Regions from separate parts of the Homo sapiens genome. Here region 1 is linked to region 2. The links come from fine-mapping of genetic effects on gene expression. A gene starts in region 2. The other region holds a variant in brackets. All regions are shown on one strand. Distances are from middle to middle. Region 1 has its middle 130 kb from the start of PGBD5. Region 2 holds the start of ARV1 (ARV1 fatty acid homeostasis modulator).

Region 1 (2,713 bases), 680 kb after region 2:
TATGCCCAGCCGGACGCATCCTTGCTAGGCATTGAGTTGACAGTGCAGCCGCCCCGGAAAAGCTGGGGTCTCGTGCGCTGCGGTACGGGCATCTTCCAGCAAGAAGGGTGAGGAGGTCCCCAAGGTCTTTCCAGCACCCCTGGGAGAGACGGGAGTCTGTGAATAAAGCCTTGGGCGCAGCTGAACGAAGGACTTTTTCTCTCAGCACAACTAATGTGAGAACACTGTCACCTGCTTCCATCTCTGGGGAATGCATTTTCTGAACAGGTGCTGGCCCCGGCCCTCCCCTCCACACCACCTCTGCTTCAAATGGGAAATCTAAACCTCTCAAGGCCCAGAGGCTGTTTGTTTCTCTCTTATTTCTAAGGCATCCACCCATGAGTGCTAGAGAAACCTACCTTTCCTGCTGTTGGAGCCTTCTAGGACCTCCCTGTCTCAAAAACTATGACCAGCACCGTGCTCATGATCAGCGGGCTGGTGCGCAGTGGTGGGGATGGCCTTAAACCCCGACTGCCCAGGTAACACCCTCATTTCAGTAATGGCCCATCATGATGGCAAGCCTTAATGGGAGGTGTGGTGGGCAGAACGAGGAGCCCCGACCCCGAAACAAAGAGGCTCACCTCCTAATCCCCAGGACCTAAGCCTATGTTACTTTTCACAGCAAACAGGAATTCAGGTAGCAGAGGAGTTCAGGTTGCAATCAGCTGTCTGTGAGGCAGGGAGAGGACCCTGGAATATCCTGTGGGTGCAGTGTCATCACAAGGGTCCTTGTGAGTGAGAACCTTTCCCAGCTGTGTTTACAGCGGAGACACGGCTGTGAAGAACGCAGGAGGTGCAACGTTGCTGGCTTTGATGATGGATGGGGGGATGTAAGCCAAGGGGCATGGACACCTCTAAAAGCTGGGCACAGTGTGAAGTGGAATCCTCCCTCAGAGCCTCCAGAAAGGACTGCAGCCCTACAGACACCTTTACTTTCGCCCAGGGAGGCCGTGTCAGACTTCTGACCTCCAGAGCTGTAAGGTACTACATTTGTGTTGTTGCAGCCACCAAGTTGGAGGTCATTTGTTACAGCAGCAACAAGAAATCAATATGGAGGTGATTTCAGGCCCCGGAGGGATTCTGAGGGCAGTGGGCACATTCAGGAGTTTCAAGTCAATACAGTGGTGACAGGTGCCCAGCACCTTACTTCCTCGGGGCGAATTTGCCGAAGAGCGGAGAGAGCAGGTTTCAATGCAAAGAGGAAGAACCAGGAAACAGTCACATCAGAGCATCTGCTTTTGTCCTTGCCAAATGCACAGGCACAGATC[A/T]GCTTGGAGAACTCCCTTTTGTGTTTCTGGTTCAAGGAACGGAGCCCTCATTTCTCCCTGTGCTCGTGAGGAACAGGAAGTCAAATGAAAGTTTAAAAGGATGACGCGGCTGGAAAAATCATTGTAATCGTGAGTACTGTCTCAGGGGCAGCCTTTAGACTTTGCCCAGTTTATCTGTCACCAAACAAAGGATCATAACAGGGACAGGTCCATTGTGATCTGTCTGCTGGGAAGAGCCTCACAGCCAGGGTGGAGACACAGAAAGAAAGGACAGTTGGGATGCACATGGAAGGCAGACCCTCCCTCTGGGTGAACGGCCTGGCACAGGGCCACTGTAGGAAGATCTGGCACCTCTGGGCCCTTTTTCTGCCTCTTCCCTCCCTCAGGCTGACCCTGCATTTAAAGGAGTGGAGGCAGGGCCTGGTTGTCAAACTGACAGGCCACATACCCAGAGGGAGGAAGTCGCTCTCCAGTGGAGAGACGATCTCTGGCCGTGGAGTCAGTACTTGTGAATTTCCACCAAGCTCTGTTATTGACGATGATCTTGAGCAATCGTGGGTTCCCCTTGAGCCCTGGGTTCTTTATCTTTTTTTTTTTAATTATTATTATACTTTAAGTTTTAGGGTACATGTGCACAATGTGCAGGTTAGTTACATATGTATACATGTGCCATGCTGGGGTGCTGCACCCATTAACTCGTCATTTAGCATTAGGTATATCTCCTAATGCTATCCCTCCCCGCTCCCCCCACCCCACAACAGTCCCCAGAGTGTGATGTTCCCCTTCCTGTGTCCATGTGTTCTCACTGTTCAATTCCCACCTATGAGTGAGAACATGTGGTGTTTGGTTTTTTGTCCTTGAGATAGTTTACTGAGAATGTTGATTTCCAATTTCATCCATGTCCCTACAAAGGACGTGAACTCATCGTTTTTTATGGCTGCATAGTATTCCATGGTGTATATGTGCAACATTTTCTTAATCCAGTCTATCATTGTTGGACATTTGGGTTGGTTCCAAGTCTTTGCTATTGTGAGTAGTGCCGCAATAAACATACGTGTGCATGTGTCTTTATAGCAGCATGATTTATAGTCCTTTGGATATATACCCAGTAATGGGATGGCTGGGTCAAATGGTATTTCTAGTTCTAGATCCCTGAGGAATCGCCACACTGACTTCCACAATGGTTGAACTCGTTTACAGTCCCACCAACAGTGTAAAAGTGTTCCTATTTCTCCACATCCTCTCCAGCACCTGTTGTTTCCTGACTTTTTAATGATTGCTATTCTAACTGGTGTGAGATGGTATCTCATTGTGGTTTTGATTTGCATTTCTCTGATGGCCAGTGATGATGAGCATTTTTTCATGTGTCTTTTGGCTTCATAAATGTCTTCTTTTGAGAAGTGTCT
Region 2 (3,021 bases):
AAAAATTAGCCCGGCGTGGTGGTGCAGGCCTGTAATCCCAGCTACTTGGGAGGCTGAGGCAGGAGAATTGCTTGAACTTGGGAGGCAGAGGTTTTAGTGAGCTGAGAGTGCCCCACTGCACTCCAGCCTGGGTGACAGAGGGAAACTCTATCTCAAAAAGAAAGAAAGAAAGAAAAAAAAAACCGAAATAAGATTGCCAGAAATCATGAAAGGCCTATATGAGGTTAATCGTCACAAATTTGTTTTTCCCCAGCAACGTACTGCTGCATGGGTACAGGGACAAGACCAGGCAATATGTTGGATTTAACAAGGGTTGACATTTTGACAAAAGAGGGAAAGTACTTGAGAGAGGAACAGGAAATTGAGGTTGTATGCATCAGAACGTTATGTGGTTGGCAGATTATACAGGTATACACTCAGTTTGTCAATTCTCTTGTATATTACTACAGACCATAATTTACTAAAGAGATTAGAAAATCACAAGATCTGAAATGGGACAAAAATGTACTGTCTATTCTGTGACAGGTTCTTTGCTAATTAATACCCCCAAAGAACCTCCAACTTTGTAGACTCTTTAAACATAAGATTATTCTCTCTGCCGTAAAATAAAGAAGGGAAAGAGTAGCAGGAGACTCCATAGGGCCTTATAAGCCAGTTCAGGGATTCGGGCCTTAACTCTGAGATGGAAAATCATCAGAAAGTTCAAGGTATTCTACGAACACCTTGAAATGAGAATTTTTACTTCCTCACTTTTGGGTTTTGTACCACCAACGTCTAGCATAGTGCTTTGTACACCGTAGACATCCAATAACGACAATTGATGAAACCTTTAAAAAGCATCGTAGGTGAATTCAACATGGGTTGTGGAGGGTAAGGATGGTACCATCTCTCTGTCAAAGGGAGAAGAGCTAGAAGGAAGTAGCTTTGGCATGAACCAAAATGTCAACCTAATTGATCTTTAAATTTCTCTGCAAAATGCCCACATCTACCTCTGTCTGTCGGTCCGGTCCGTTCGCCGGCTTAGGTCATATCACCCAAATATGCCCCAGTATGAGAAAAGCGCTGTCGGGTAGCTGAGTTCTCTATCAGTACAGATATTCATGCAAAGATCCCGGGCGGGAATGTCAACTACCGAACTAAAGACTGTATCAGAGGACCCTGCTCCTCGCGGTCCCCAAATCCCGCCGCGCCATTTTCTTCTCAAGGGCACCCCACACCTGACAACTCACACAGATGGTTATCTTCAGCACACCGTGGTTATAGTCTCGGTACAACTCTTTGGCCTCCTGGTTGCATTCGATGCACCTGTACTGGCAGGAGGCCGAGGCAGCAGTAGGAGTCGCTGCCACCCCATCCACGTTCCCCTTCCCCTGCTGCAGGCCGCTCCGCCCGCCGTTGCCCATTTCCACTCAACTGCAGTCCAGAACTTCCGATTCTGTGGAGGGTAAGACGTCAGACGCCAGACCGGAAGACTTGCGCCGCGCGGGCTTATTGGGATTCGTAGTCCCGGCACCGGCAAGGCGGCCCCGGGCTGGCCGAGCTGGGACTACCATTCCCAGCACACAATGCTTCTCCCCTTGTCCCGCCCCCTTGCCACGGTCCACCTGCCCGCCGTAGGTTAGAGGCGGGGAGGCCTGAGAGCCGGGCAAGGGCTGTCGCGCATGCGCCTTGAGGGAAGATGGCACCTGCCGGCTGCTGCTGCTGCTGCTGCTTCTGGGGCGGCGCTGTGGCCGCCGCGGGCGCCGCCCGGCGTGTCCTGCTGCTGCTGCTGCTGGGGGTCCTGTCCGCCGGGCTGCGGCCAGGCGCCCTGGCCACCGAGCACTACTCGCCGCTCTCCCTGCTCAAGCAGGAGCTGCAGCACCGGCAGCAGCAGGAGGCCCCGGCGGGCGGCGGCGGCTGCAGCCCGCAGTCCGGGGACTGGGGGGACCAGTACTCTGCCGAGTGCGGCGGTGAGTGGGCGGCGGCGGGCGTCCGAGTCGGCCGGGGCGGCGGGGCAGCGGGGCTGGGGTCCCGGGCCGGGGTACGGGTCGCCCGGGCCTCACGCCTCCGGCTGCGGCGCGCGATCCGCGGGAGCCGGCTCGGCCAGGGGTCCTGGCGGGCAGCTTCCCGCCGCTGCCACCCACGCCGCCGCGCGCCCTCCTGCAGCCGCCTTTGGGCAGGGCGGCGAGTCGAGAAATGAGCTGACAGCATGCTCCTGGGGCCAGGGCGGCCTCTCTCCTGAGTCTGAAGCAACTGTTGGAAGGGTGGCGGAGGAGATGGCAGGTGGCCCGGGGCAGCCCTGTTCCCGCCGCCGGCCTCCCGAGGATGCCGAAGGGGCGAGGGAGGGGCGGGCGGACGAGCAACCAGCCCGGCGGCTTGCGGAGCCCGCCCCCGGAGGGAGACGCCTGGCACATCTTAGGCCTGGAAATCAGGCTTCCTGACCTCCCGGGTTAATGTCTCGTATACAACAGTTCCTAAAAATTGGATCCCTGGAATGGAAAAAAAGAGCAAGCCCATCTTATCTGCTCGTTGACATCTTGCTTCCAGTTGTTTAAGATCAACCTGCGATCTGTCAGGTGTCTCCCAGAGGGAAAAAAGGCCCCTGCAGGCCTTGAGCCTGTGTGTCAGTGCCGTGTGTGTATTGGAGCTACGCCAGCTCATTCATTAAGAATGGGCGCTATTGGCTTCAGTTTAATAAATCATAGCAGATGCCTCTGGGACAAAATACGTGTGTACATTTTTTTGTTTTGAAGTTCTGTCGTGGGTCTTTTTACCCATCAATCTCCTCCCTTTCTCTTTCCCCCTTCTCTATGTGAGTTCCCTTATGGCTTGCTTTGGGAAGGACCGGGGTCTACCGAACCCACTGGGAGATGGTTGCTTTTAAGACTTGGCAGTGGTTTTCTTCGGCATTGTGTACCTGGGAAAACAATACCTTTTTTTTTTAGTTGAGATGAGACGTCAAGATTAGCACAATCTGATTTCCTTTTAGTACAGTCTGACTTCCTTGAGGAAGTGTCACTCACTGAGAGGTTTGTGACTTTT

Evidence for each region. PIP is the estimated chance that this variant, and not a neighbour inherited with it, causes the effect. A credible set is the group of variants that fine-mapping cannot tell apart.
Region 1: its variant is the best candidate, but not a certain one, in a credible set for the expression of ARV1 in lymphoblastoid cells (GEUVADIS, PIP 0.85).

What each region holds. Positions count from the first base shown.
Region 1 is chr1:230,298,333-230,301,045 of GRCh38, reverse strand. No RefSeq gene overlaps it. Among named protein-coding and RNA genes, the nearest start is that of PGBD5, 130 kb to the left of the region's middle. The variant A/T (reference allele first, on the strand shown) is at 1,308.
Region 2 is chr1:230,977,488-230,980,508 of GRCh38, reverse strand. It overlaps ARV1 (ARV1 fatty acid homeostasis modulator), which reads right to left and starts at 1,415. Exons shown (of 6, transcript NM_022786.3): 1 at 1,230-1,415. The coding sequence starts at 1,403. TTC13 (tetratricopeptide repeat domain 13) reads left to right here and starts at 1,648. Exons shown (of 23, transcript NM_024525.5): 1 at 1,648-1,949. The coding sequence starts at 1,679. RefSeq lists an enhancer at 1,184-1,483 and silencers at 1,764-2,023, 2,044-2,333.